Linked DNA regions of Homo sapiens. The protein of the gene in region 6 purifies or fractionates together with the protein of the main gene of each other region. This does not show direct contact. Each region holds a gene or a part of one and is shown on either strand. Other genes may lie near its edges. The genes, in order: HS6ST2, KHK, STK39, ADGRG6, HEATR6, CST8 and METRNL.

Region 1 (4,858 bases), on a different chromosome or scaffold from region 6:
TCCCAAAAAATCCACTATCCCTTATGTCTGCAGCTGGACAAAGGGTCCCTCACGGTCCCCAGTAGGTTTGGGGGCACGTAGAAGTCTAGCCAGGGCTGGGAATTCTAGGGGGTGGTAAAGACAGGGTGCACAGCCACAGAATTGCCTGAGAACGGCCTGTTCCTTATTTGGCCTGTGACGCAGTTGGCACATTGAGCTTAGAGCAACAGGTAAACACAGCCTCACATTTGGAGTGGCCTAAAGGTTTCTACATTTCATCCCCACGGTGACTCAGTTGGTCAAAACAGGGGACATAATTGGTCCTATCTTACAGACAAGAAAACTGAGGCTCAGGAGGGGCAAGTGATTATCCCAGTGCTGCCCAGGGACAGATTTCCCAGGACTTCTGGACTATTCTTAGGCTTGCCGCTTCATGGCATAGATAGAACAGGAAACGGATGGAGCAGAGCTCAGCAAGGGAGATACTGGGAGAGCCTGTCTCCAGGAGGGACATGCCCCCACCCCAGGACTCAGCTCGTGGTCTGCATTCTCCCACTCAGTGGCCCCAGTGCCAACAGCACTGCTCAGAAACACTGCTGCCAACCGGTGCCCCTTCTGTAGCAGTGGGACTGGAGGGAGTTGCACACTCAGTCACGGAAACACCAGTGTCCTGATGTACAGCAAGCCCCTTTGATCAATCAGATGGGGACAGACTGACTCCTGAGTTCCCAGGGTCCTTTTCCTGAAGGAACATCCATTCTTTCCCTGTTAAACCCTGCATTCCTGGTCCAGCAGCAGAAAAGAGCCTTTCGGACACTGGAGCTTGAGGAAGATCTGTGCCTATTTATTAGAGAAGGTGGTGTTAGTATCAGGAAATAGGTGGATGGTGCTGGGTTTCTTGGGTTCAAACCCTGGGGCTCTGCTGTGTGACCTTGGGCACATCCCTACCCCTCTCTGGGCCTCAGTTTCCTCATGTGTCACATTACCTTGGATTAGACGGTCTCACTCTGATGGAGTTTTTAGTTATGTATCCATTCATTCAACAAACCTTTTATGAGTCAAGCCCTCCTGCAGGCACAGGGTTTGGTACACAGGATTCAGCAAGAAGACAGTCTGTGCTCTAAAAAAGGTCAGATTCTCATTCTGTAATGCTTTTTGGTCCTGCTGTCTTTTTATCATGCTGACTTACCTTTTCAGAAAATGCCCCCGCTTCCGCTGGAGAATGGAAATTGGCAAAGAGAGACGGAAAAGCTCCAATTTGCGCCTTTGCTATTTTAGGAGAGGTTGAAATTACGAGCCAAAGTGGAGTGATGCGCTAAGCGGAGTGACCTCCGTACTCCAAGAAAAGAGAAAACCCAGGTTCTCTGCTTGTGAAGTGGCTCGAGCTCTTAGGCGTGAGGCATTATTATATAAATTCAAGCTCGCTCGTGATCCTTAGTACCCTGAGTTGCCTGAAGGGGGGAATGGCACTGCCTGCGTGTGCAGTCCGGGAGTTCGAGCCGCCGCGGCAACCGGAGCGAGGAGCGCCCGTCCGCACCACCTGTCCCCGCCGGCATTCCAGAGTAGAGGCCGAATTGGCAGCGAGCCGGCCCGGGTCGGTCGCCGCCTCAGTTCGCGCGGGCCCTCCTAGGGGTGTGTCTCACGGATTCCACACCCGGCCGCTCCTGGACAAGCCCCGAAAGGCGTCTTCTTCCCTGGCGGGAGCCGCGTGCGCCCCGCTTTTCGCGCTGCTGTCCCGGGGCCGCCGCAGGCGGATGCACGTCCTCAGGCGACGCTGGGACCTGGGCTCCCTCTGCCGGGCCCTGCTCACTCGGGGCCTGGCCGCCCTGGGCCACTCGCTGAAGCACGTGCTCGGTGCGATCTTCTCCAAGATTTTCGGCCCCATGGCCAGGTACGTTCTAGGTGAAAGCGGGGTTCGCGCTCCCAGGCCAGGGCGCGAAGGTGCTGTACGGGGAGGGAAGGCAGCCGCGGGGGGTAGAGAAGGGCGTAAAGTTCCAGCTGGCCATTGGTGGCCCGGCTAGGGTCTCCGGAGGGGTGCGGCGCGCATTTGCCCACGCCGCGGCTCCGTCGCTACTGTTCCGCGGGCACCGGCAGCGCAGCGTCTCCGATAGCAAGTCGGGCTGCCGGCCGGCTCATTCCCCCAGGGTAACTCTGAGCCCCCGGCTCCGAGCTCCCTCGAGGCCGCCTACCGGGTGGGCAAGCGGGCGCGGGCGCCGGCAAAAGGAGGGCTTCGGGGCATGCGGGGAGAAACCCGGACAGAGGTGTGCGCTCCAAAGAGGATAGGGGCAGAAGAGCCCGGAGAGTCCGGCGGACGAAGCGGGATGGGGATGGGAGCGGGAGCCACCGAGAGTGGAGCGAGACACGCGGGGGCCCGGACTGGGGGCGTGAGTTGAGGAGTGGGGCGACTGGGCCCGGAGGGGTCCCACTGGGGCTAAACCCCGTGGAGGGGCTCCGGGGAGCTCCGGAGAGCTCTGGCGGGGGGAGGGGGCGAACGGCCCGCGGGAAGGAGTCGGGGTGGGGGTGTGTGTGTGCCGCAGAAGCCACAGCGCTGAGCCTGCCGGGAAGGAAGGAAGCGGGGAAGGGAGCCGCCGCCGCAGCCGCCGCCGCCGTGGAGTACTCGGTGCGGAGGGGAGGGGGAGAGGGGCGCAGCAGCGGCTCCAGGGGAAGGGGGCGGTGCGGGGGCACGACGAGCGCGGGCTGAGCTGCGGGATTGACGTAACGAGCTTGGGTTTCCCCCAGCGTCGGGAACATGGATGAGAAATCCAACAAGCTGCTGCTAGCTTTGGTGATGCTCTTCCTATTTGCCGTGATCGTCCTCCAATACGTGTGCCCCGGCACAGAATGCCAGCTCCTCCGCCTGCAGGCGTTCAGCTCCCCGGTGCCGGACCCGTACCGCTCGGAGGATGAGAGCTCCGCCAGGTTCGTGCCCCGCTACAATTTCACCCGCGGCGACCTCCTGCGCAAGGTAGACTTCGACATCAAGGGCGATGACCTGATCGTGTTCCTGCACATCCAGAAGACCGGGGGCACCACTTTCGGCCGCCACTTGGTGCGTAACATCCAGCTGGAGCAGCCGTGCGAGTGCCGCGTGGGTCAGAAGAAATGCACTTGCCACCGGCCGGGTAAGCGGGAAACCTGGCTCTTCTCCAGGTTCTCCACGGGCTGGAGCTGCGGGTTGCACGCCGACTGGACCGAGCTCACCAGCTGTGTGCCCTCCGTGGTGGACGGCAAGCGCGACGCCAGGCTGAGACCGTCCAGGTGAGTGCGCGCCGGTAGTCGAGCGGGACCCGGGCCTAGGCGGGCGGAGGGCTGGGAGGCGCGGCTGGCCCAAGCCGGGGACCTAGCGCGCACCCTGACGCCCGGGCGTTTGCACCCCGGCTGGGCAGGTGCTGGGCGCCCAGTAGCGCACGTTCGCCGCGCTGTGGCGGCCACAGAAAGGCTTTCCGCTCCGGCCCCGGACTGACCGTCTGTCTGTCCGCAGGGTGGCCTGCGTGATGGTTGGCAGAGCGTGCGGGGGAGGCGGCCGAGCGGCCGGAACGGGGCCGCTGGGACGGGGCATCGTACTCAGTCTCCGCACTGGAGAGCCCTAAAGAGCCGCGCTCTCCGTGCAGCGTCTCTGGATCCCTGCTTTCTTCTACTCTGCACCCGGGTTCCGAAGTCTCCTTTCAGCGCTCTCTTCCTCCTTTCGGCGCCCGCATTCTTCCCTCCCCCCGCTTTCCCCCCTATTTCGTCTATTTGCCTTGTTCTCCCTCTTTCTCTCTTGTGTCCTAGATGTTGTCTGCTCCTGTTTGCTCGCTGTTTCCTTCTTTCCATTCCCCTCTCTCGCTTTTATTCTTTTTCTCTCTTACCCTTTCTGTTTTTCTCTTCTTGCCGGACTTTTATCACCTCGCTCCTTCCCCGCTCTGGCTCTGGTCTTCCCGGGCGACTGGGTGTCCCTCTGTCGCTATTTTCCGACATCCAAGGAGAGCTCATGGTTCCCAGGCTTGCTTATCACTACTGGCTGCATGAGAGGCATCCGTGGCTCTTTGGGAGTGGCGGGGGGCACCCCGCGGACCGAAGGGCGGGCTGGGATGGTGCCCTGGACCCCATGTGGGGTTCAGTCACCAGGAGCCTCTCCTGATTTACAAAAAATATTTAAAAAGCTTGAGCCCCAGCATGGGGCGCTGCCAGCCCATGTTCTGTGAGCCTGGGCTGATGCGGTAAAAGCTGATTTATTAATAGTCTGTAGCCAGAAGCAAGGGTATTTTCCTCCCTCCAGACGCGATGTCCAGTTGCTAGAGGTCATGCAGTACTGTAAAGTGGGTGGTGGTGGGGTGGGGGAAGTGAGTGCTATGGGGTGCAGTTAGTCCAGCCAGGGCTACTGTTTCGCAAGTCTCCTTAAAACAAATCTGGGCTGAAGCAGGGAGTCCAGGGGGTGCACAAGGTGAGTTTCATGGCCTGGAGGCCTCTGGATGGGGTCTCTGGGCCGGCAAGGACATGTCTGTGTCCCATCCCCATCCCCCGGGTGCACTTGGTACCCTGGACAAGGGGATGCTTTGCAGGTGACTGTTAGAACGCAACAACCAGTGTGGATTTTTCTGTCCAACTGCAGCAAATAGAGCCCTAGAGCCCTCTGACTTTCAGATTACCATTGAGATTTAAGGGGAACATCACCCCCTGGCTCTCCTCTTCACTCTCTCTTCTCTCAGTTTACACTGTCCTTTCTCAAATGCTGGAATTGTGTCAGAATCTGCCAAACTTGTATTTCCTTTCCAATACTAACAAATTTTTTCTTCCACCCCAAGAAAACCTTAGCCCCAGGACCTCAATCCATTGGTACAATTGTGTAAGTCATTGTCACAACAATATTCTGGTGTTTAATAAGTTCCCAAACAATTTG
Region 2 (3,096 bases), on a different chromosome or scaffold from region 6:
GGCAGAGGCTAAAGGAGATGCCCCTGGGCCCAGAGGGGAAGCTGGGGGCCAGGCAGAGGCTGAAGGAGATGCCCCCGGGCCCAGAGGGGAAGCTGGGGGCCAGGCAGAGGCTGAAGGAGATGCCCCCGGGCCCAGAGGGGAAGCTGGGGGCCAGGCAGAGGCCAGGGAGAATGGAGAGGAGGCCAAGGAACTTCCAGGGGAAACACTGGAGTCTAAGAACACCCAAAATGACTTTGAGGTGCACATTGTTCAAGTGGAGAATGATGAGATCTAGATCTTGAAGATACAGGTACCCCACGAAGTCTCAGTGCCAGAACATAAGCCCTGAAGTGGGCAGGGGAAATGTACGCTGGGACAAGGACCATCTCTGTGCCCCCTGCCTGGTCCCAGTAGGTATCAGGTCTTTCTGTGCAGCTCAGGGAGACCCTAAGTTAAGGGGCAGATTACCAATAAAGAACTGAATGAATTCATCCCCCCGGCCACCTCTCTACCCGTCCAGCCTGCCCAGACCCTCTCAGAGGAACGGGGTTGGGGACCGAAAGGACAGGGATGCCGCCTGCCCAGTGTTTCTGGGCCTCACGGTGCTCCGGCAGCAGAGCGCATGGTGCTAGCCATGGCCGGCTGCAGAGGACCCAGTGAGGAAAGCTCAGTCTATCCCTGGGCCCCAAACCCTCACCGGTTCCCCCTCACCTGGTGTTCAGACACCCCATGCTCTCCTGCAGCTCAGGGCAGGTGACCCCATCCCCAGTAATATTAATCATCACTAGAACTTTTTGAGAGCCTTGTACACATCAGGCATCATGCTGGGCATTTTATATATGATTTTATCCTCACAATAATTCTGTAGCCAAGCAGAATTGGTTCCATTTGACAGATGAAGAAATTGAGGCAGATTGCGTTAAGTGCTGTACCCTAAGGTGATATGCAGCTAATTAAATGGCAGATTTTAATCCAGGTCTGTCTCACTCTAAAGCCCTTTACATTATATGCTCTTTACATTATAAGGCCTTACCCACCCTATATTGGAGTTGGCCCCAATTCCAATATGTGTTCCAGATCGGACCTCCCTGAGGACAGCAACACTCTGTATCCTGGGTCACATTTGTGGCTGAGGCACGCCCTTAATTCCAAGGTGGGCTCCAAGGGTGAGACTTTCAGGCTCTGGGGCAGTCAGCGGGAGGAGGTATTTCTGGACAATGAAGACCCCATCAAATCACAGGCTGGTGGGCAGGGCAGAGGAGGCGCACCCCTGCCCCCCACTGGCCTGTCAGTTCAGCTCAGCGGTGTGGACTCCCAGCTTCTGAGCTGTGGGAATAGAGTCTGCACAACGCAGGGCCCCGAAGAGCTCTCACGGTTTCTTTGGCAGGTTCACTGGGTGTGGGGCACCGAGTGTCCTCCCCAGCCAGGGCAGAGCTGGTGGCAAGCCCAGGGCACTTCTCGCTGCTCTAGCCCAGGCAGCCCCTCCTCTGGGCCTGGGCGGAGAGGTTAATTTGGGGAATGGACACAAAGAGGGAGGATCGAAGAGTCAGAGCCTCAGGAATGCCCAGCCAGAGCAGTTCAGACATTGAGAGGAGAAGCTGGCTCTGAGGAAGATTTATTTGCTCTGAGGCTCTGCATCCCCCAGCCATCCCCCCAGAGCCTCTCCCTGTGGGGAACACAGGACACAGGCAGAGTCCTCCCCACAGCTTGCATCTGTCCCCTGAACAGGGCAACCTGGACGCCAGGCTGGATGGAGGGGAGAAGGCGATGCAGCCGCAATGGTAGTCTCCATGGTGTGTGAGGAGCCGGCACCTGCTCTCACACGATGCCATCAAAGCCCTGCAGGCCACACTTCTTGCCGGCCACCTGGCACCCGAATCTCAGTGCTTCCTGCACGCTCCTCCCTGGAGGAGGGGCAAGTAGCTAGGTCAGCCAGGTGTTTGGGGCAGGGACAGGTCCCAGTCCTTTTCCCCTCCTGCTGCCATACTCACCCTGGGAGAGGCTGAAGATGACGGAGGCATTGAAGGTGTCTCCAGCTCCCAGTGTATCCACCACGCGGGGTGGCGGGAAAGCATCCGAGTGGAGCAATTTGCCATCAGGGCCCAGGGCGTCGGCGCCCTCCTCAGCCCAGGCACAGACAAGCACAGCCCTGCAAGACGGCTCCACTCAGCTGGGTGTTAGCCCACCCCGTCCCCCCAGCCATCCTCCCAGCTCCAGGGCGGACTCCTGGAGTCCAGGCTCATCCTGTACCTTCTAAAGCCCCTTCCTGGCTTCCCCGGCTCACCCTTTCCTCACACGACCATACAAGCCCCTCAAGGCTTCCTCTGCTGACTGGAACCCCAAGTGCTTGGCCACATCTTTGCTGACAAACACCTGTGGGCAGTGGAAGAGAAGCTGGTGGTCACTTCTAACTCGTCATTCACCAACAGCAGCCTAGCGTTGCCCCCATTACAACACGACTCCCCCAACATGTCCACATAGATCCCCAACGTAGCATCTCACTGTCCCACGGGAACGTGGTTTTCTTTTTTCTTTATTTTTTGTGAAGATGGTCTCCCTGAGGCTGGTCTTGAACTCCTGGCCCCATATGATCTTCCTGCCTCAGCCTCCCAAAATTTCTGGGATTACAGGTGTGAGTCACTGCACCTGGCCAGAAGCATATTTTTATCGATGCTTATATATAATAGAATACAGCCTTGTAAATTGTAAAACAAAAGGCCTGGTCCGTTTGTTCTCTGATCAATGGATTGAAAACCCACAGAAAGCCTTGAGCGCCACCTTGGGGTGGAATCTACCACCGCCATGCTGGCTCCCTGGAGCAGTTTTGCTGGTTTTTCCCACAACTATGTCCTCTAGGTATGGTTTCTTCATCTGGAAAACAAAGAGGCTCCCTCAACACTACCTACACTTTAGAATCTCCAGAGAAAGTTTTGGTAAAAACAAAAAACAAAACACCGAAGCCTTGGCTCTACCCCTGCCAATCAAAAACAAGATGGTGGGGCTCAGGCACTGCAATCCTCCTGCCTCAGCCTCCTGAGTAGCTGGGACTATGGGTGCACACCACCATGCCAGGAATTTTTTTTTTTTTTTTTTGTATAGAGACAGGGTCTTGCAATC
Region 3 (4,350 bases), on a different chromosome or scaffold from region 6:
GAACACTCACTTTAAAGTCATAAACAGATGGCTAAATGTCTTTAAAACTCAGAACAAAAATTTCAGGAGCAGAAAACAACAATCCTAATATCTACTCCCTCTATGACTACAGAAGAAATATACAATTTGCTCCTATGTACGGCTGATGTGTATACAGATTATATGTACTCAGTAACAGAACATTTTGAGCAAAGTACATAGTGTGCTTATGTTATATACACAAAAAATTGGTATATTATATTGAGATAGCTTGCATATGACAGTTAGAACAAGGTGGCAGAACTGTAACAGTGAAAAGCTGTCCTTGTTTCCTAAGGGGTACATCTATACAGCCAAAGGGAATGCAGCCAGATTCACTTGGGTACAAAACCACAGACATTTCTCTAGAAACACAGAATCAAAGGCTACACATAAAGTTAGCCAGTCCATCTCCCTGCCTCCAGGAATAACTGGAGGATATGGGTAAATGCTGCTTTAAGAAAAACAACAACAACAACAAATAATGCTGTCATCCTAATAACAAAAAGGGTCTAAGACCTTCTGAATCCATCCACTTCTTTGCTCCTCCACAGCCACTGCCTTCATTTAATCCACCACTACTTCTTGCTAAGATTTCTGCAGCAGCCTCCTAAGTTCCCATCTCCCTTCTTTCCCCAGATCCAGGCTCCAGCAACCAGGCCTTTCTATGTCACAGGCCTGAGCCCTCCTTAAAAGACTTTCAGGACAGGAGCGGTGGCTCATGCCTGTAACCCCAGCACTTTGGGAGGCCAATGCAAGTGGATCACGAGGTCAGGAGTTCAAGACCATCCAGGCCAACATGGTGAAACCCCATCTCTACTAAAAAAATACAAAAAATCAGCTGGGCCTGGTGGCACGCGCCTGTAGTCCCAGCAACTCTGGAGGCTGAGGCGGGGGAATCGCTTGAACCCAGGAGGCGGAGGTTGCAGTGAGCTGAGATCATGCCACTCCACTCTGGCCTGGCAAGAGAGCAAGACTTTGTCTCAAAAAAAAAAAAAAGTCTTTCAAGGCTCCCTGTCCCCTCAGGAAAAAGTCAAAATCCTTCAGCATAACACGTAAACCTATATCACTACTCTCAGATTCAGACAGTAAGCTCCAGCCTACTGAATGACTTACTTTTTATTCCCTGATCCCATCACCTCCTTGGCCTCACCAGCATTGCCCTTGCACATGATGCTTTGTCGTCTAGGTACATCAACCCTCCATGCTGAACAGGTGCACCAGCAGAAGGCTTTCTGCATGACCTTGTTAATGACACAGCATCTCCGGCACCCTGGCTCTTGGTGAGTAATTTGATGTGCATTCATCACCTTTGCGTAATTTGATTTCAGTAACATTGGTCATGGTCTAGTTTTGATGTGTGAATGCTACTAAGCCTTGAGGAGGATCTGCAGGTATGGTTATCTGATTTGGAGAGTGGCAGATCTACTAGGAAACATTACAGGACTAATGGGCAAGATCTGAGTGTTAACAGTGATTAGGCCTAAGGCTAGACTATTACCCAACTGTATGACTCCCGAAAGGGACTTAAACTTTCTGGGCCTTATTGGGCTTCTTATTTAGGCCTATTTTTATTTATTTATTTTATTTTTTTGAAACAGAGTCTCGCTCTGTCGCCCAAGGTGGAACATAGTGGCATGATCATGGCTCACTGCAGCCTCAACCTCCCATGCTCAAGCGATCCTCCTACCTCAGCCTCCCAAGCAGCTATGACTACAGGCATGTGCTACCATGCCCATCTAATTTATTTTTATTTTTTGTAGATATGGGGTCTCTCTATGTTGCCCAAGGTGTTCTCAAACTGTTGAGCTCAAGCGATCCTCCTGTCTCAGCCTCCCAACGTGCTGGAATTATAAGCATGAGCCACCATGCCGAGCCTCAATTTCTATATTACTTTCATATTTATAAGACTCATTTTTTTTTTTACCATGTATGACTATTCTTTATAACAACTGTTAGGTAGATCGATAAGCTACTCACTGCCTTTTCATAAGCAAGGCAAGCAGGCTGAGGGGATAAGCATAAATATTTTACAGTGGCAGAGATAAAATAGGAGAAGACATGTTTCTTGACTTCAACAATATTTGTCGGGCATGATAGTTCATTAGGTGGGTGCGGTGGCATGCAACTGTAATTTCAGCTACTCAGGAGGATGAAATGGGAGAATCGCTTGAGCCCAGGAGGTCGAGGACGCAGTAAGCCATGATCATGCCACTGCACTCCAGTCTAGGCAACAGAGTGAGCCCGTCTCAGAAAAAAAAAAAAAAGAATATTCCCACCTAAGTAGGATAAGATGTATAAAATCAAATACTATATTGTCTGTGTAGAAGCAGAGGAGCTATAACCATAATGGTCATAGAAGACTATCTCCAAAGTGGGTCTTGGAGCCAGCCTTCAAGATGAGGTGAAGACTTGGATGAGCAAGTCCAACAGGAAACAAATTCCAGACAAAGAAACGGCATGAGCAAAGCACAAGTGTGGAGCCAAGAAGAAAAACTGACAGCTGCAAGGGTCAAAAACTCAAAACACCTACAGCAGCCAGGCAGGAATACAATGGAGAAAAGAGGGTCCTGAAAAACAACAGCTACAGTCTCAGTGACAAGGGCCCTTGATGCTCAGTCTCTGTGACGGGAGACTTTAGGAGTGCTGGGCCCTGTGTGAAGCCCTGGAGCCCACTGTCAGCACCCTCCCACCAAGGTCCAAGGCAGGCCCCTGCTGCTTGGCACCAGAAGAAAGTTGCCATAGAGAAATGTAGACCCAGGATTGCTGGATATCCCAGTTTTCCCAAAAAAGCCAAACATTGGAATCTTTATGAAAAAGCTCCCTTTCTTACTGTAGTTGGCAACAAATTCATTTTTAAAAAAATAGAAAAGCGATTTCTCCTGCCTAATTTAGTCCGCAAAACTAAAGTCTGCCAACTGTGTGGTTATGATGTCTAAAATGTACCTAAAATACTTCAACATATGCCATGTGATATTATGTTTGTGATACCACAACCTAGGTGGTCAGCTGGCATTCTAACCAAGAATGTCCAGTGCTGGGGGGGTTCTGATAGCACTCGACTCAGGATGCCAGAGGCAGCTGCTGGAAGTATTTCTATTATCCAAATCTAAATATAGATGAGCATAAGCCAGGTGACTGATTGTCCAAAGGGGTTATTATTAGGGAAAACAGTGACCTGTTGAGAGGTATGATACATGTTAGAAATGGGCTTTCACTGCTGAAAATAAAGGTTCTTAGCACCAGAGAGTGGCTAAAATATTTTAGATATACTCCTTACTCTTGCATGAACAGAATAAAACAATCCAGTCCAGTCCAACTGTAGACTATACCCTAGCCAGTTCTGTGGATGGTTGGATTCCTAGTAGCAAGCATAAGGATAAAGCAAAAACTGCATCTGGAATCTTGGCATGTCTGCCTCTAATGAATTTTTCATTCACCTATGAGGAAAAAGAACTGGGATTTCCTTGAGCTTACAGAACAAATTGTGAGAACTGTTTAGGGGCTTGCTTGCTAATGAAGGGCAAAATTTGGTCTGAAAGTTGATTTCTCTAAAACCTGTAAGGGAAGCTGTGGGTGAGTACCCAAGCCTCACCTACCTCAAACTTCTACAGTATCTGCTATTCTCTTTGAAAAGGAACCTGAGTTGTGCATGAACAACATTGACTCTCTTTGATCAGAGAGTAACGGGATCAATGTTTGAGAGTTCAGAGCTTCCTAAAATGTAGCTACAATGAGTTAAAAGAGACACTGATGCCTAAGTGGCTGGGTGGGAGTCTGGAGCAATAGGAGCCCCCATAGCTTCAGGGGACCCTGAGAGTTCTTTCCTACAAGCAGCTTCTTTTCCACAGAGGCCATTATTTTTAAAAGCAGGGAAGTACTGGGTGAGATTGTTGAGGGGCCCAACCAACCACAGAGTCTGAGCACCAGGTAAGGGAATTTGTACCTGATTCAATTAACAGCTGTTGTTCCCTCTCTCGTTAGAGAAGAACAACATTTGGAAAAAGTGACCATGCAGGGATGTTCAAGAAAGGAAAAAGACTAGAAGCAGAGAAGACCACAACCATAGCCCAGGAGCAAAATCAACAGAGCCTGTATATGAATAGAGAGGTTGGAAATGGAGAGGATTAGACCAATTCTTAAGAAAATACGATGATTTAGTAGATATTGGAATTAAGAAAAGAGGAAGGAATAAAAAGATTAGATGACTTGCCAAGGAACACACAGCAAGTTATCGAAGGTCTGAATAAAATTCACAGTCCTTCAGAAAGGAGTCAGCCACTTAGCCCTAGTCTCCTCTTCCGGAAAGTTCAGTGTATTTTTCTTTATTGA
Region 4 (4,350 bases), on a different chromosome or scaffold from region 6:
AACCACAGTCTACTACTTTTACATACATTGTTTTTTAAAAAAACTTTTCCTTTCAATTTGATTGTATCACTTAACACAGACCATAGCTTCAGATAATGCTGTCATACTCTATTGCCTAGACAGACAGGAAACCAAAGCCACAGAGAGGTTTTTTTCAAATAAAGAATGGCTGATGGTAACAACAGATAGAATGTAACTTTGTAGAACCATAAAATAGTTTCAGTTTTCAGGATGAGAGAGGAAAACACACAGATAAGACCTGTGAAAATGTATGGCTATTCCTGACTTGTTGGGTTTGGGTATTCAATATCACCCACAATACTTTGGGCTAATTATGTTCTCAGTATTCAAGACAAGTAAAAGGTCACATTCCCAGCTGTAAGTTCTCACCAACTGGAGTGGCGAAGCTTGTCTTTAAACAATGACTTAATCCAGGGATACTTTTTCATGGGCCATTTTAAAAATTGTTAAGCTATCATAGTCACATCTATGTTCACAGCTATCATTATATTCATTATGTTTGCCTCATCCTGAAATATGGCTTGTATGCGAATGGTAAGCAGTAGATCATTTTAGAGAGAGCTTTTCAGAGTTAATTATGAGAAGAGTAGAGCACCTATTCCTTGAAATTAGCACAGATATTTAGGAAAGAAAACTTGAGCTATTCTTTAATTTCACCTAGCCTTGAATAGCAAATATTTCACATATTCCTTCTTATTTTTTAACACCACAAATAAATTACTACTATAATACTTATTAATATTCATAGTTTCATAAATAAAATGTCACTGCCTCTCCACTAGACATTCCATAACTAGTTTAAAAACAATACTACCACTTTGTCTTTGGCGTGAAGACAGTAACTGATCTCAATAATATAACGTCTTATCTTATTCATTTCTCCTCTGAATATGAAGAAGAAACAATTTTTTTGTGAATCCAGAGCTTTCACATATAAGCAAAAGAAATTCTCCTCTACCTGACAAAATAATGTTACTTACTTTTACCTCAGTGTTAAATTAATAGTTTTGATTTCTGCTTTTGACTATAGCTGTGATTGTAGTGGAACAGAAAATTATATTACTTTAAATTGTAGAACCAAAAGTTTTTAACAGGGCTTTGGGGATACATTTCTTTGCTTCCCATAGAGGTATTTCCTTTTTAAAGACCTTCAAAGTCAACCATTCTATAACCTTCTTAAGTAATATGCTGACCAATCACAGAGTCGATTTTAAGTATTTATTTTGTGAAACTTTTTACCATAAAAAGTATTTGCAAATGCCTCATGGAGATAGAAAATCATTTGTTGCTATTCTGAAGAAATTATATCACATTCATGAATAGTAACACTTTTATAGTGTTAGTAAATATAAATAGTTAATTTCTAATAGTTAGAAATGGTAATTTCAAAAGATAAATGGTCAGTTGAAATCATAGTTTTATTAAAAAAAATTAATTTGGGGCCACAAAGAAAAAATGTAGAATTAACCACAGGAATGCTGTTTTCTTGTGTTTATGCTTTAAATGACTATATAATGTATTACTATAAATATTAAATATTAAAATATTTCTGAAAAGAAATGGAGTTATTTGACAGAATTATACAAGCAATAGCCTATAGAATCTATTAATATTGGAATATTTTTAACATTATAATTTACACAGCAGCAGAGAAAGTCTGTGAGCACCTTGGCTAATCTCTTCAGTCTCAACAGGTGATGGTCATCCCTCTACATCCAAATACTCTGTTTCTCCTACCAAATGACAAGCAACCAATGAACAACAACAACAGTTCTATCCGAAATGTTTCCCTAGGTTGGTGCTTTGGGCCCTTCTAGTTTACAATGCTACCAACAATACTAATTTGGAAGGAAAAATCATTCAGCAGAAGCTCCTAAAAAATAATGAGTCCTTGGATGAAGGCTTGAGGCTACATACAGTGAATGTGAGACAACTGGGTAAGTGACTAATTTTTTTATAATATGCATTTTATACAACTGTATATTCAGGTTTACTTGAAACAACAGCAGAAATTTTCTTTATGCGCTATTTGTTTATGTAAGTTTTTTTTCTGATGGTGAAGTTCAGTAACAAATGAATGACATAGCAGAAAAAAAAAATCAGCTCAGTGTCTGTGAATCCAAGGGAATGAAGGAGGTAGATGAAAGTTTATATTTTACTTTAGGAACATATTTTGAAAATACTAACAATATGAACAAAATGCCAGAATAATCTTGATCATCACTGTTGTCAACTTTAGGGAAAAAAAAGAGTGTGTAGATGTGAATGTGGGAACTCTAATGAGATAAATCTTATAGAAGGAGATTTCCTGTTTTAAAACATCTCCTGCTGGGCATGGTGGCTCATGCCTATAATCCCAGCACTTTGGGAGGCCAAGGTGGAGAATAACTTGAGCCCAGGAATTCGAGACTAGCCTGGGCTACACAGGGAGACTGTCTCTACGAAAGATTAAGAAATTAGTTGGGTGTTGTGCTGTGCACCTGTAATCTCAGTTACTAGGCGGGGCTGAGGCAGGAGGATTACCTGAGCTTGGGAGGTCAAGGCTGCAGTGAGCCATGTTCATGCCACTGCACTCCAGCCTGGGCAGCAGAATGAGACCCTGTCTCAAAAAAACAAACAGAAAACGTCTCCTTCTCTCATGTTCCCTGTCTCTATTAGTGATACCACTGTCTTCACAGGACTAGGTCATGAATGTAGGGATTCTGTTGGACCTAAAATCAAGTTTCTCCTGGAGATCGTTCACATCCTAAGCTCTAGCCACACATATGGCACGGCTTGTACTTCCACAAAGAGGCTGTGCTGCTTCCTTTAGATACCCTTTCTATATCTTTGCACACTGTTCTTCTCCACTCCCACCGGCAACCTCATTATCACCTATGTATTTTTAAAGACAGCTCCTAAGTCAGCTCTTCTTTGGAACCTTTTCTGAAATAAAGTATAGACATCACTGCCTTTGAGCCTCTACTTCATGCTGTCCAGATGCCTAGAGCATCATATGCATCAGAAGACCATAGTACTTAGAAGACTAGATATATTTATGTTCACATATATATATATGTATATATTCTGTAAACAATAATCTCTGACTTAAGATCATATTTTCTTTTTTCTTTAACTCTTACTTCCCACATATTTCCAGAACCCAGCACATTCCCTGGAACTGGAACACTTGTTGAATAGACAAATGAATGAGTCTGCATGAGAATATTTTAGGAAATCAAATGTTCACAAATATGGATAACAAAAAGCAATTGTTTTAATGTTATTCTATGATTGCAATTATACTGTGATTAGGTACATTAGTAGAGATCAAAAGAAAAGAAAACTTTGACCCTTCGCCTTCTCTACACTCAGGAGGTTGAATTGAGGGAGGCAAGTGTTCCTCAGCCTTGAAGAGGGCGATTGCGACCAAGGCCATAATCACAGTCTAGTAAAGAGGCAGGCATCTCCACTTCTGTGAGGAGCCACCCATCTCTATTGGGTGGATGTACACCGTTACAAAGAACTCATAGAGATGGATGAATGCAAATAATAATACTAATCATGGTAATAAACCATTTCTGAGTCTCTATGGGAAAATACTTCTTAACAAATGGGGCTTTTTGGAGGGAGGGAGAATGCAAGCTGCTACCCTTTCACGTATAGGAGTCTTCACAAAGAAGGAGTCTGACAAATGGTAGTTTATCTATGACTGGAGAACCCTAGGAGGACCAGCACTGGCTCTGTCCTCATAGGCTGTGAAAGCCCAGCACCACTCTGTCCATATATTTAGACATTTAATTTATACCATTTAATTTAAATTATCCGTTTTATTGTTTTTCTGCAAATGAATCTGTGGATAAGCGCTTCTACCAATGGAAAAATAAAAGGCTAAAACCTAACAGTTTTAAAGTTCACAGTATACATGGGAAAGTTATTTGAATTTTCAGTTGGTGATGACAGTACTTGTTCCCAGAAAACTGATATAACTCACTAATGCTCAGTACTGAAATACAAGAGTTTATTGTTGTTGTTGACGTATTGCTGTTACTTTGATATCCTTTAAAATGTAGAATCTGAATCATTGATGTCATGAGGCTTACTTAGAGAGTCGTCAAACAAAAAGTCAGATGATGTGAGGATAAAGAAGTCTGAGAGTTTGTTGGTTTGCAGGTGACTTCCTGTGTCCCCCTTAGTTAGCTTCCAGGCAGGAGAGGCTATCAGAGCAGCTGGAACATTTTCTATAAAATAGCCACACAACTCAAAGAAGACACTATTGAGGCATCATTTCTAGGCTTTCCCCTTTGAAAAAAATCAAATTACATTTTGAATTTTTCAGGATTGTTTTCC
Region 5 (4,350 bases), on a different chromosome or scaffold from region 6:
AGCCTTCCTGTATGGCCCTTGCCCTCAGCCTACTAGAGAGAGAAGTTTACCTGCATGACTTGGAGGGAAAGGGAAGCTCCAAAGAGGCAGGAAGTTTGAGAACTAGAAAGCATCCAGTAGCAGAGCTATCAAGAGCCACATAAGAAAAGGGAGCTAGAAACTGATAAAGGACTCTGACGGGTCGGATTGTGAGTGTCTCATAGCTCTAGCAGTGGCCCATTGTCAATGGCACTGGCATCCACCAAATGGAAAGGGCCTGCTTGCCGGTCTTCAGAGGCAACAGAGAAGCCAGGAAGGGCTGGGAGAGTTAAGAGAAGCTGCATTCTACTCTGTCACCCATCTTGAGTAAGGACACCCCAAAGTGGAGTGGGTAGCAGTAGCTCTGGTAAGGAGGAAAGCAGGCTGATTTCCTAGGGCCTACAGGTGTGGAGAAAAGATAGAAATCTGGGCATCTTATTCTTGAAATTGTAAGTTTTCTTTTTCTTTGCAATAAAATGCATGACTGGCTATGGCCAGAGCAGTGTCTGGATGCTGTTGCAGGTGAGCATGCAGTGTGTGGCTTGCACACAGCTCAGAAGTGCCCAGCTGAGAGGATAGGTGGGGTTGCAGTTCAGTCCACGCTCTGCCCACAAAGCCATACCCCAACGGGACAGAATCCTCCCAGAGAAGAAGCCTTTTTCTGAGTCACCAAAGGCTTTATATTGGGTAGCAGAGGCTCTAAGCGTGTGGCAGGCTGAGGTAGGGAAAGAGGGAGGTTTGGGGATTGGCACCTGGCCACTTACCTAGGATCCTACAGTCAGTCACCACCCTTGTCTTACAGGATGATTGTGAGAATGAAGTGAACACATAAAATGAGTGTCTTGAGCACTAGTGTTTAAGCTTCCTTCCACCCCTCTCCCTCTCACCCCACCTAGTTCTAAGCCTGCATTTGTTTTAGTGACTGTGGATTCTTTCTAGGGACAGCCCCATGGACCTCCCAGGCCTACAATGCCCTGACATCGGTCGTGACATCATGCAAGAACTTCAAAGTGCGCATCAGATCTGCAGCTGCCCTTTCCGTCCCGGGGAAGAGAGAGCAGTACGGGTCTGTTGACCAGTATGCTCGGATCTGGAATGCATTGGTCACCGCTTTACAGAAGAGTGAAGACACCATAGACTTTTTGGAATTCAAGTACTGTGTCAGCCTACGGACCCAAATCTGCCAGGCACTGATTCACCTCTTGAGCTTGGCCAGTGCCTCGGACCTCCCTTGTATGAAAGAAACCCTTGAACTGAGTGGGAATATGGTCCAGTCCTATATTCTACAGTTTTTAAAATCAGGAGCAGAGGGAGATGACACTGGAGCACCCCACAGCCCACAGGAAAGAGACCAGATGGTCAGAATGGCCCTTAAACACATGGGCAGCATCCAGGCACCAACTGGAGACACAGCCAGAAGGGCCATCATGGGCTTTTTAGAAGAGATCCTGGCCGTTTGTTTTGACTCATCTGGATCACAAGGGGCACTCCCAGGGTTAACAAATCAGTGAAGATCCCACCATACTTTCTAGATGTCGAAGGCGGCAGTAGGAAGACCTGAGCTTGAGCATAAGATCTGTGGGATTTCATCTTAGGGGCAGAAACAATCCGTTCACTATTTATTTAGAATGACTTAGCAGCCATTTAAATTTTCACAGAGGGCTCAACCACCTTTGGAGTGACTCCATAGCACTGGCCATGGTCAGGGTTGTTGGAACATCTGACCTGTGCATCCAGGAGCCGAGGAGTCAGGTTGTAATACAGGCCAAGCAGACGGGCTTTGAGGGCATTTAGTCTCAGAAAAAAAAAATGTAGAAGGATTTCGGAATTAGAATTTTGTGTATTGTATCTGTAGTTTTGTAATAAACTAACGAAAAATAGTGTGTCCACAATCTCCTGTTGTTACCAAGTTGTATTTCTAGCAAGCTGCAAGCAGAGCTGCAGTTCAGCCAGTTTGTCCTGGCCCAGCTGCACAGGATGCGAGGATGCTGACAGTGCCTCACAGCCGCACAGGACCGAGGATGCTGACGGTGCCTCACAGCCACACAGGACGCGAGGATGCTGACGGTGCCTCACAGCCACACAGGACGCGAGGATGCTGACAGTGCCTCACAGCCACACAGGACGCGAGGATGCTGACGGTGCCTCACAGCCGCACAGGACCGAGGATGCTGACGGTGCCTCACAGCCACACAGGACGCGAGGATGCTGACGGTGCCTCACAGCCGCACAGGACCGAGGATGCTGACGGTGCCTCACAGCCACACAGGACGCGAGGATGCTGACGGTGCCTCACAGCCACACAGGACGCGAGGATGCTGACGGTGCCTCACAGCCGCACAGGACGCGAGGATGCTGACGGTGCCTCACAGCCACACAGGACGCGAGGATGCTGACAGTGCCTCACAGCCGCACAGGACGCGAGGATGCTGACAGTGCCTCACAGCCGCACAGGACGCGAGGATGCTGACAGTGCCTCACAGCCGCACAGGACGCGAGGATGCTGACGGTGCCTCACAGCCGCACAGGACGCGAGGATGCTGACAGTGCCTCACAGCCGCACAGGACGCGAGGATGCTGACAGTGCCTCACAGCCGCACAGGACGCGAGGATGCTGACAGTGCCTCACAGCCGCACAGGACGCGAGGATGCTGACAGTGCCTCACAGCCGCACAGGACGCGAGGATGCTGACAGTGCCTCACAGCCACACAGGACGCAAGGATGCTGACGGTGCCTCACAGCTGATGAGCTGCTGCTCCGAGCTTCTGGAGTGCCCGTGTTCCCCTGACCACCTTCCCTGCCACACCTCCCCACAATCCAATAACCAGAGTTAACTCCCAGCAAGCAGGGCCTTCTAACCTAGGCTACAACATTGACTTCTACCTACATTTCCTGATGCTCTTTAGGAGAATGTGATCCCACACACTAAATATATGGTTGTTTTGCCACCTTTTAATTTGTGCCTTTAAGAAAAGATCATTTGGTTAGTTGGTTACAAAGAGGGGTTTCCAATTATATTTTGATAATGCCCCACAAGTTATGAAGGTAACTTCTACTGAATATATATATTTAAATTTTGCATTTTTCTACTGAGCACCAACGATTTATTGGAATTGATTTCAATTAGGAATTTAGGGATATATAAGAACCAATTACAGTTGTCCATACTTATCTTTGATGTGGGACAATTAAGAAGTTACAAAAAATGGGTGTTGGTGATATTTTATCATGGTTATTTAGCTTAAAATACACGTGTAAAGGCAGGTGTCTTCCATTTTTCTCCTTTGCCTTTTAGCTGCTGTTTTCCTGCCTCTGACATGTTGGCTGCTCAGAAACTGCTCTCTGGGCAGTGATTGGGGAACAGGGTATTCAAGTTCACTAAAGGCTCAATTTTCCATTGATAGAATATCAGTGTCCACAGAATTAAGACTGCAAGCACAGCAAAGACACCCATATTGAATGTTCCCTTAAATTGCTTTTATTTGGAGACAATTCTGAACATGAAGTGTTATAGAGGGCCCAGGAAACTAAGTTGAGCCCACCTGACCCTGTGATGAATCTTGGAACTTCCGTCTCTTGAATACATTCTTAGTAGTAGCTTCTTGGCATTTTCAAAAAAGGAAAAAAAAAATATGGCATAGACAGCTTATTACTGTGATTCTTTGAGTTTTCTCAGGTGAGTTTTTTGATAAAATATTTGTGAAGTGGCCTCATGGTTTCATTTGATGATTCACTCTTATCCTTTCCTTATCTTGAATAAAATCCCATTCATTTTCTTTTTAAAACTTCAGCTTCTGTAAAGGTTTCCAGATCCTGATGTGGATGTTAATGTTCATGTGCAGGAAAACAATGAAGGCATAGCACCTCTAGAAACTTCAGAAGGCAGTGGTACCTGCTGTGTCCCAACAGTATGCTGATTCTCTTCTCTGCAGCATTGTGGGTGTACATACACTAAAGGACAGAAGCTCCTCATATGCCTGGGCACGTGCCTCCATAAAGCTGCTGTGGGGAAAGGAAGCCACTGACAATAAAGACAACTTAAGCTGATGAAAATCAGCACACAGCTCCACTGGTTCAGATTTCTAATGCAGAATGCCAGATTCTAAATTATCTTTTGACACTTAAAAATTGGGAGGAAGAGTCATCCAGGCACAGATGGCTAGGGCCCTTGTCCATTAGACTACAGCATTATGAGACGTTGCTTATCTTACTCTTTGAACCTTTTCTGTGACGAGTAAAAAACAAACAAACAAACAAAACATTAATTCCTATCCCCTTCCAGAACTCAAGAAAAGCGCCTCTTCTGAGGTTGGGTGCCATGGCTCATATCT
Region 6 (4,926 bases):
ATTTTACAAAAACACTTGTGTAACATCATGAAGATATTGGAAAGGGATTGTTCACTGCAATACTGTTTGTAACAGCTGAAAATGAGAAACTGAAGAATCTAGTCATAGGGAGAAAGTTTAAATACAGCATAATGCATTTGTAGTCTGCAATGCTTTGCCACCTGCCTGACAGATTCCTGCCCCATATGTGTTTTCTGTACGTTGCCCTTGCTCATAGAACCCATTGATCTTTGCAGCCTAGGAAGAATGCTCACCTCTCTGCCTCACCAGGAACTTTCTGGACACTGATTTGGGATTTTCACAGAAAAGCAGAAGCTTTGAGAGCTTAACAGGTGCGTGCCCCCCTCCTCCCACTAAGGGCCAGGCCTGGGCATCAGAGTGGGCCACGTGACCCTTACCCTGGCAGGACAGGGCAGGGGGTTACTGTTGGCCCAAGCCAAGGGAGTTCAGAGGCCAGGCATTCAGGAAGCCAGAGTCATTGGCACAGGTGGGCAGAAGATGCCAGAGGGGCCCTGTATTAGTCAGGGTTCTTTTAAAGGGACAGAACTAATAGGATATATATGGTTGTGTATATATATAAAGTTAATACTTAATAAACTCCCCTTTATATATATATAAAATATATATATAAATTATATATATATTAATTATATATATAATATATATATAAATTATATATATATTAATTATATATATAATATATATATAAATTATATATATATTAATTATATATAATATATATATAAATTATATATATATTAATTATATATAATATATATATAAATTATATATATATTAATTATATATATAATATATATATAAATTATATATATATTAATTATATATATATAAAATATATATAATTTATATATATAAAATATATATAATTTATATATATAAATTATATATAAAATATATATAATTTATATATATAAATTATATATAAAATATATATAATTTATATATAAAAATTATATATAAATTATATATATAAAATATATATATAAATTGTATATATATAAAATATACATATAAATTATATATATATAAAATATACATAAATTATATATATAAATAATATGTATATAAAAGGGAGTTTATTAAGTATTAACTTACATGATCACAAGGGCCCACAACAGGCTGTCTGCCAAACTGAGGAGCAAGGGGAGCCAGTCTGAGAGTCCCAAAACTGAAGAACTTGGAGTCTGATGTTCGAGGGCAGGAGGCATCTAGCATGGGAGACAGATGTAGACTAGGAGGCTAGGACCATCTCTCCTTTTCACGTTTTTCTGCCTGCTTTATATTCGCTGGCAGCTGATTAGATTGTGCCCACCAGATTAAAGGTGGATCTGCCTTCCCCAGCCCACTGACTCAAATGTTAATCTCTTTTGGAAACACCCTCACAGACACACCCAGGATCAATACTTGGTGTCCTTCGATCAAATCAAGTTGACACTCAGTATTAACCATTGCAGGCCCCTGACTCTGAGGGCACAGCAGGAGGCATTTGCTTGCTCTCTGTGCCCCTGTGAGAGCTGTTTAGACCAAAGGCCGGAGGCTGGCAAGTGGGAGATGTCCTCACTGGGACAAGACACAGGTGCTGAATTACATCACAAAGCGTAACCTCCCTGCAGGGCGTGGACTCAGAGGGGCAAGAGAGACCGCAGACCAGGACCCACAGAGACCCTTGACTGGGCCACAGGCATGAACTAAGAGTGCTGAAGACCTAGGAGAACCACTGGTCAGGTCAGCTCCCAGCTCCACAGGGAGTAAGAAGGAGCTGCAGGCACAGCAGGCTGAAAGTCCACCAAGGGCTGAGGCCACAAGGCCTCTGGGGCAGCCACAGTTTTCATGATCACATCATACAGGACTGAGAAGCAGATAACAAGAGTGACGCTCACAGGGGTAGGCATAGACACACTGGGGCCGAAGGGGAGAGGAACTCTCCCTAGACACACAGATTGCTCTCAGGGTAAGGAGGGGAGGCTGGTAGAGAGACTCCTTAACTGGCATTCCTGGGTGGGTTTCCATGGAGAAAGAGAGGACAAACCCCAAAGAGTGACCCTAATGGCCTGTCTTGAATCCAGCTGGGCTGACGCTAACAGGAGGCAGTGTGTGGCTCGAAGATTCTTGAACCCACAGCAGCAGCTGCGGCCACCCCATCCTGCCCACAGCTCCAGCCCTGAGACGACGAGGAGGAGAGTCGACTTTGCCTCTTGCCCAAGGGACCATGCCCAGGTGCCGGTGGCTCTCCCTGATCCTCCTCACCATTCCCCTGGCCCTGGTGGCCAGGAAAGACCCAAAAAAGAATGAGACAGGGGTGCTGAGGAAATTAAAACCCGTCAATGCCTCAAATGCCAACGTGAAGCAGTGTCTGTGGTTTGCCATGCAAGAATACAACAAAGAGAGCGAGGACAAGTATGTCTTCCTGGTGGTCAAGACACTGCAAGCCCAGCTTCAGGTAAAGGTGTCTTTCCATATAGGTGGACATTTGCATATGGTGGCACAGTTGAAGCCAGACTGAAAGAGTGGGCATATAAGAAAAATATCACTATGCAAAAATCCTAAATATGTGAATGCTTAAGAGCCTAGACACTTCCACAGCATCAATAAGGCAGTGAACACACAGAGCACTTTCTACAAACGCTTGCGCTTTTGTTCTAAGTCCTTCGCATAGATTAACTCATTTAAACCCCAAACTGCAAATCAAATGTTCATGTATTTGCTAAGGTTGGGAGACAGATAGAATGCTAGCCATGAGAAAAGATCTGATAAAGGTGAGTCCAGGTGAACCTGGACCCAACTAGCAGACACTCCTTCATCTCCTGCTGTAATCCTTTAATGCCAGATGAAAACAGATTTAAATGGACATCACAAGTAGCCTTGATTGCATTCAGTCACTAATGAGTTCAACAAATACTAATGTCCTGCTATAAACCTACTGCTGTTCTACTCACTAAAGACTCAGCAGAGAACAAGACAGGCAAACTCATGCCTGCATGGGTCCTCATGGACTGTGTGCTGAGCTGGTGGGAGGGGCTTTGGGTGGGGAAACCCCAGAGGATGGGAGGTTTCACAGGAATCTGAGGGACTGGGGCCTAATGTGGCTGAGGGGGCTGTCCCCTGGTCAGGCCTGTGTGAACCTGAGCATCTCAGGCCCAGGAGAGCTGATGGTTCTGAAGAGCCCACCTTTCACCTCTCAGTCCTCACTGAGCATGCAGCATGCCCTGGGCTTGGGGACAGGAAATGGAATGAGAAGGCCTTGCTTTCAAGGAGGTGACAAACTGGAGAGGAGTCTTTACTCAAGTGTCCAGCTCCAGGAGCCTATGGAGTCCTGACTGATCTTGTTGTACACAGGGCTCCAGGCAGTGGGCATCTTAGCCTTCCGCTAAAGCTCTGTCTGGGGGTGAGGGAGGAAGGAAAGAGGAAAGGACGAGAGTAAGAGTAATTTTTTTTTTTTGTCAAAACTTTAAAAAAGTACAACTCTTTTGAATAAAATTGCATAATTGCTAACCAACAGGTCACAAATCTTCTGGAATACCTTATTGATGTAGAAATTGCCCGCAGCGATTGCAGAAAGCCTTTAAGCACTAATGAAATCTGCGCCATTCAAGAAAACTCCAAGCTGAAAAGGGTAGGTGATGAACCACTCATCTGTGACGGCCTAGGCAGCTCTGAACCCAAGAGAGAAAGCTGAGGCACGCAGACCTTCTCTTTGAGGTCTGGGTGGCTCCCAGTGTTTAGCCCCAGATAGCCAACCCTGTGGCCTTTATAGCAGAAGATCCAGGGCCACGGAACGTGGTGGAACCCTCTGAGCTTCTTTCTCATCCTTCATCCTGCAGAAAGGATGTTGTCAAGACCACTCTTATCTCAAGGGCTCCATTGACTTCTGGCCTTTTGATGCAGGCACACTGGACAACACATAATCACCAAAAGCCTGTCCTCTTGGGTCCAGACAAGCCACCCACTATTGCTGGGCCCATGGTCACTCATCCCCATACAGACACAAAAGGAACTTCATTCATTCACTCATCCACTCATAGAAAATTACTGAGCACCAGGTGCTACGTGCTTTGCACCAGGTCTATTCTGGGTGCTGGAGATTAAGCAATGACTAAGCCAGAGGGTGGCCCCACCCTCCTGGGTTTACAGTTGATTTTTGCTGGGGTCAGTCCAGGTTTCCAGGAAGGTTGGGGCAAACCCACAGACTCCCAACAAAAGGAGGACTTGGCCCAGGGGCTTTTGGCTTCAAGCCTGTATTTTTTATCTCAGAGCAGCTCATAGGCCAGTACTTGGTCCCAGACAGATGAAGGCCTGAGCATTCTGCAGGTTTGCCCAACAGGTGCATCACTGTCCCTGTCTTTACATTGGTGGTTCTCCAATGTGAGCAGGCATCACAATCACTTGGAGGTATTGACAAACCCTGATGACCGGGTTCCACCGGCAGAGTTTCCAATTCAGGAAATGGGATCTAAGAATTTGCATTCTTAATGAGTTCCTGAGTGGTGCTACTGCTGCTGCTGCTGCTGGCCTTAGGATCATTTTGAGAACCACTGCTTTATGCACTGCCATGGCACAGGAAATTGCAGGTACATTTATGAACTGCCCTGCCATTATGTTTGATGAAAACTGCCTCTGTATGCTCAAATGAAACAAACCCTATCATTTCCAGCTCACAATAAATGACCCGTCAGGACAAACATTTCAGCAGTGAGCTTGTCCGAATGCTATCTGATCTTTTATGCTTGTTTTATCTTTTACTGGTATTAGGAATATGGTTGCTTTAAATTTATATTTTCTCCCGGGCTTTTAGGGATTGTAGAAAAGTTTTTGCTTTTGGCAGTTTGTAGAAAATATTAAAGTGCATTAAAGAAAATTGTTCTCAAGGAGCCCACTTGTGTCTAAGATTTCCATGATACGTCTCAG
Region 7 (3,857 bases), on a different chromosome or scaffold from region 6:
CCTTCAGAACGTGAAATGGCACCGGCGAAACCAGTGCCATTGAGATTTCACGTCTCAAAGTTTCTATTGCGTTAGGAGACTTGGGGCCAAAACCTAGAGGCTCAGAACAGGTGAGGCCTTGAAACCTGCAATAAGAGCAAATAATAAAACCATGTTTTCCAAGTCCGTCCCGAGTGTAGGAATGCGGGGCGTGCAGAGGTTTCTGTTTCACAGTGGCCCGCCCATCTAAGAAACTGGGGCGAAGGGCAGGGCGAGGGCTGGGCCGAGGGGAGAAGGTTGTTGGGAAAGCCTGGTTTGGCCGGTACGGGAGCTCATTCTGAGAAGCCTCCGTGCTTTCCGCATTCTCTGGGGGAGGCCAGGCCCCGCAGGGTTCAGGGGCTTCAGAGGGGGTTCTGTGAGCAGGGCTTGGCTTGAAAGCCATTTGGGGCATGCACCTCATCCCGCGGCCAGGTGGCATCCGGGGAAGGGGCCGGGCCGATGGCCCTGACTGGAACTCACTGCCCTGCTGGGTGAGGCCCCACGCCGGTGGCAGGTGGACGCGTCGCTGCCTGCTTAGGGATCCCCTTCCTGGAATCTTGGCCTCGCTGGCCCTTCCAGCCACATGGGGGGTCCCGCGGGATGGGATCCTCCTTTTGGGTGCCGCTGCCGTCGCGACCCAGGGAAGTGGGCAGCAGAGCTGTGGGGAGTGTCTGCCCTTCGAGGAAGCTGGGAAATGAGGGTGGTCCCGGCGCCGTGGGCCGTGGAGGTGGGTTGGGGGCGACTCTGGGAGGTGGGGGTGCTCCTGGCGCCGTGGGCTGTGGAGGTGGGTTGGGGGCGACTCTGGGAGGTGGGGGTGCTCCCGGCGCCGTGGGCTGTGGAGGTGGGTTGGGGGCGACTCTGGGAGGTGGGGGTGCTCCCGGCGCCGTGGGCTGTGGAGGTGGGTTGGGGGTGACTCTTGTCTGGTGGGTTCGGTTCAGCCCCAGTGGGCTTTGCATTTGCAACAGGCACGTGAGCGATTTCTCAGTGAGTCCGGCTCAGCCGCACTGAGGAGATAAGTGGGGAAAGAGCACAAAGACCCCTCCCCACGAAGGCCCTGGGACATGGCCGGACTGAGGGTCTTGCTCTCGGACATGTGCCCATCATGGCCGAGGTGCAGGTGCCTTTGGTCCAGGTGGGGCCGAGGGGTCCCCTGGGTGAGACCCCGTCGTGGTCGAGGTTGTGTTTTCTGTCTCCCGTGCTGCCGGCCCCTCCAGCACGTGCCGCCAACTCACATTTGAAGTGGCGTTGGTCACAAAGGTGCCTTGACGTGGACACCCTCCCTGACTTGGCTTTGCTGAGTGTGAGGATCCTTTGACGGTGGTGGGCGGCGTTCCAGAGCCTGTCCCGTCCAGGCTGCTTCCTGACTCTGCCTTTCTTCTCCAGCGCCGTGCCGTCCCTGCAGTGACACCGAGGTGCTCCTAGCCGTCTGCACCAGCGACTTCGGTGAGTGTCTCCTCGGCAGCTTCTACCTCCTGTGCTCCTGGTTTCTGCCACATGGAGCTGTTTGGGCCCAGGAGTCCCTCTTCAGGGCCCAGGACAGCCTTCCGGTGCTGCGTGGACCCTCCTGGAGGGGCACACGCTGTGGAAGCCCTGGGCTCGGCCCTCCACCAGCCCTGGGGACAGGGACGCCACCGCCCACACTTGGAGGGAGCTGGGGGTTGTTTTGGTGACTGTCAAACATTTTCCCATTTTGTAAATGAGATCACTGCTCTTCGAGGGGACTCTTGAAGTCCACTGTCTCCCAGCAGCTCTTCTTGCTGAAGTGCTTTGTAAACAGCATTTTATCAGCAGCCCAGAGCATCCTTGGCGTTGGACACTCCTTGCCCCCCACCAGAGTTCACGCTGTTCCAGGCCTGAGGCCCCCGGCGGCTCTGCGGCTCTGCAGGAGGAGCTTTGGGGTCCCAGGGCTCCAGCCCCTTTGCTTGTGGCGTTTGCACAGACGCCCTGTGGGAAAGGTTTGGCCTCCCGTCGTGTGGTGCCGTGGAAGCCATGTCCTGCAGGCCCCGGCTCTGCACCCCACCTCCAAGCTCAAGGACAGGCCCCTTCTCACTGCTTTCCCGGCCCCTGGCATGGAGTTGGGGCTGGGCAGGGGTCTCCAAGTGTGGCGCGAAGGCTGTCCCCATGCCCACCCTCTCCTGTGAGCTGCACCGGGTCTGTCTGATCAGGACACAGAACTGCAGGGGCACCCTGTGTATCAGCTGGACTTGTTTGTTCTGTTTTCCCATTTAACAGGTCTGGCCCTTGGTAGAAAGGGCACCTGTTCTCTGACGATGTCTAAGTATCTGGGACACCCCTTGGCAGCTTTCTGCTGTTACATTGTACTTTTCTCTGGGAATTTCCACGCTAGATGGCAGAGTCGGGGGTCAGCTGCCCGTTCCAGTGCCCATCGATGCGGGGGCAGGGGGAGGTGCGGTGGTCTTGCTGTGTGCTTGCCTTTGCTCACTCCCTGTCCCCATCTCCTTCCCCGCACAGCCGTTCGAGGCTCCATCCAGCAAGTTACCCACGAGCCTGAGCGGCAGGACTCAGCCATCCACCTGCGCGTGAGCAGACTCTATCGGCAGAAAAGCAGGGTCTTCGAGCCGGTGCCCGAGGGTGACGGCCACTGGCAGGGGCGCGTCAGGACGCTGCTGGAGTGTGGCGTGCGGCCGGGGCATGGCGACTTCCTCTTCACTGGCCACATGCACTTCGGGGAGGCGCGGCTCGGCTGTGCCCCACGCTTCAAGGACTTCCAGAGGATGTACAGGGATGCCCAGGAGAGGGGGCTGAACCCTTGTGAGGTTGGCACGGACTGACTCCGTGGGCCGCTGCCCTTCCTCTCCTGATGAGTCACAGGCTGCGGTGGGCGCTGCGGTCCTGGTGGGGCCGTGCGGTGAGGGCCGCGCGCTGGGAGCCGCATGCCCTGGGCCCAGGCCTGACCCTGGTACCGAAGCTGTGGACGTTCTCGCCACACTCAACCCCATGAGCTTCCAGCCAAGGATGCCCTGGCCGATTGGAAATGCTGTAAAATGCAAACTAAGTTATTATATTTTTTTTTGGTAAAAAAGAAATGTCCATAGGAAACAAATTCCCGTGTCTTAAAACGCCTTGGTGTGCCGTCTGATACTGTTCTCTAAAGACGTTAGGAGTCACGGCATCTGGCCTGCGGTTGGGTGAAGCACTGGCCGTTGGGCACAGTGGATGTGTGAAAAGGTGCCATTCAGAGTTGTTATTCTCATGACGGAAGTTTTGGAGCCAAATAATACGTTTTTTATTTTCATTTTATTTTTAAAGGATGAGCTTTGGTCCTTTTCAGGCCGCCGGTTGTTTCCGTTCCCGAGAATAAAGACGAGGATCCGACCAGCCAGAAGCCGGAGTCTGTCTTTCGCCAGGTCCGGTGCCCACGGCCCGTGTTCAGGGCCTCGCTGGACGTACCCCAGGGCGCCACCCTGCCTCGGCAGACACGCTTGCTCCGCCCGGCGACTGTCCCTCAGCGCCTGCTGCTGCATTTCCATTAATGCAGGTCCTGCCCTGTGGCCCCAGCCTGCCCACAGTGCAGGGGCCCACAGCTAGTCTCTAGACGCCCAGGAGCTGGTCTGAACCCAGGTTGGTGACCCCATGTCCCCAAAGGATGCGGCTACCAGAACAAATCACCACCGACTGCGGGGCTGAAACAACCTCGTTCTCTGAGTTCCTGAGGCCACAATCCAAAGTCACGGTGTGGGCAGAGCCTCTCCCTCCAGGGCTCCAGGGGAGAACGCTTCATCTTCTCCTCAGCCTCCAGGGGTTCCAGGGAGGACCCTTCGTCTTCTCCTCAGCCGGGGGCGACCCTTCGTCTTCTCCTCAGCCGGGGGCGACCCTTC

What was found.
Region 1: the proteins of CST8 (region 6) and HS6ST2 purify together in Homo sapiens (affinity purification with mass spectrometry; one large-scale study listed by BioGRID and IntAct). This does not show direct contact.
Region 2: the proteins of CST8 (region 6) and KHK purify together in Homo sapiens (affinity purification with mass spectrometry; one large-scale study listed by BioGRID and IntAct). This does not show direct contact.
Region 3: the proteins of CST8 (region 6) and STK39 purify together in Homo sapiens (affinity purification with mass spectrometry; one large-scale study listed by BioGRID and IntAct). This does not show direct contact.
Region 4: the proteins of CST8 (region 6) and ADGRG6 purify together in Homo sapiens (affinity purification with mass spectrometry; one large-scale study listed by BioGRID and IntAct). This does not show direct contact.
Region 5: the proteins of CST8 (region 6) and HEATR6 purify together in Homo sapiens (affinity purification with mass spectrometry; one large-scale study listed by BioGRID and IntAct). This does not show direct contact.
Region 7: the proteins of CST8 (region 6) and METRNL purify together in Homo sapiens (affinity purification with mass spectrometry; one large-scale study listed by BioGRID and IntAct). This does not show direct contact.

What each region holds. Positions count from the first base shown.
Region 1 is NC_000023.11:132,955,187-132,960,044, reverse strand, and holds the start of HS6ST2 (heparan-sulfate 6-O-sulfotransferase 2), read left to right. Parts: upstream 1-1,415; 5' UTR 1,416-1,442; coding exon 1,443-1,870; exon of another isoform or gene 1,871-2,610; intron 2,611-2,718; coding exon 2,719-3,237; intron 3,238-4,858. UniProt on the Homo sapiens protein: 6-O-sulfation enzyme which catalyzes the transfer of sulfate from 3'-phosphoadenosine 5'-phosphosulfate (PAPS) to position 6 of the N-sulfoglucosamine residue (GlcNS) of heparan sulfate.
Region 2 is NC_000002.12:27,098,452-27,101,547, reverse strand, and holds the end of KHK (ketohexokinase), read right to left. Parts: intron 2,353-3,096; coding exon 2,264-2,352; intron 2,196-2,263; exon of another isoform or gene 2,129-2,195; coding exon 1,971-2,128; exon of another isoform or gene 1,884-1,970; coding exon 1,798-1,883; 3' UTR 1,765-1,797; coding exon of another isoform or gene 1,708-1,764; 3' UTR 1,113-1,707; coding exon of another isoform or gene 1,006-1,112; 3' UTR 786-1,005; downstream 1-785. Other genes in the region: CGREF1 (cell growth regulator with EF hand domain protein 1 isoform a precursor), read left to right, coding at 1-274. UniProt on the Homo sapiens protein: Catalyzes the phosphorylation of the ketose sugar fructose to fructose-1-phosphate.
Region 3 is NC_000002.12:168,142,710-168,147,059, forward strand, and holds part of STK39 (STE20/SPS1-related proline-alanine-rich protein kinase), read right to left. Parts: intron 1-4,350. UniProt on the Homo sapiens protein: Effector serine/threonine-protein kinase component of the WNK-SPAK/OSR1 kinase cascade, which is involved in various processes, such as ion transport, response to hypertonic stress and blood pressure.
Region 4 is NC_000006.12:142,395,798-142,400,147, forward strand, and holds part of ADGRG6 (adhesion G-protein coupled receptor G6 isoform beta 1 precursor), read left to right. Parts: intron 1-1,815; coding exon 1,816-1,958; intron 1,959-4,350. UniProt on the Homo sapiens protein: Adhesion G-protein coupled receptor (aGPCR) for steroid hormones, such as progesterone and 17alpha-hydroxyprogesterone (17OHP). Involved in many biological processes, such as myelination, sprouting angiogenesis, placenta, ear and cartilage development.
Region 5 is NC_000017.11:60,040,742-60,045,091, reverse strand, and holds the end of HEATR6 (HEAT repeat-containing protein 6), read left to right. Parts: intron 1-957; coding exon 958-1,529; 3' UTR 1,530-4,084; downstream 4,085-4,350. UniProt on the Homo sapiens protein: Amplification-dependent oncogene.
Region 6 is NC_000020.11:23,489,438-23,494,363, forward strand, and holds the start of CST8 (cystatin-8 precursor), read left to right. Parts: upstream 1-1,679; 5' UTR 1,680-1,905; exon of another isoform or gene 1,906-1,972; intron 1,973-2,087; 5' UTR 2,088-2,230; coding exon 2,231-2,461; intron 2,462-3,520; coding exon 3,521-3,634; intron 3,635-4,926. UniProt on the Homo sapiens protein: Performs a specialized role during sperm development and maturation.
Region 7 is NC_000017.11:83,091,766-83,095,622, forward strand, and holds the end of METRNL (meteorin-like protein isoform 1 precursor), read left to right. Parts: intron 1-1,401; coding exon 1,402-1,461; intron 1,462-2,490; coding exon 2,491-2,810; 3' UTR 2,811-3,357; downstream 3,358-3,857. UniProt on the Homo sapiens protein: Hormone induced following exercise or cold exposure that promotes energy expenditure. Induced either in the skeletal muscle after exercise or in adipose tissue following cold exposure and is present in the circulation.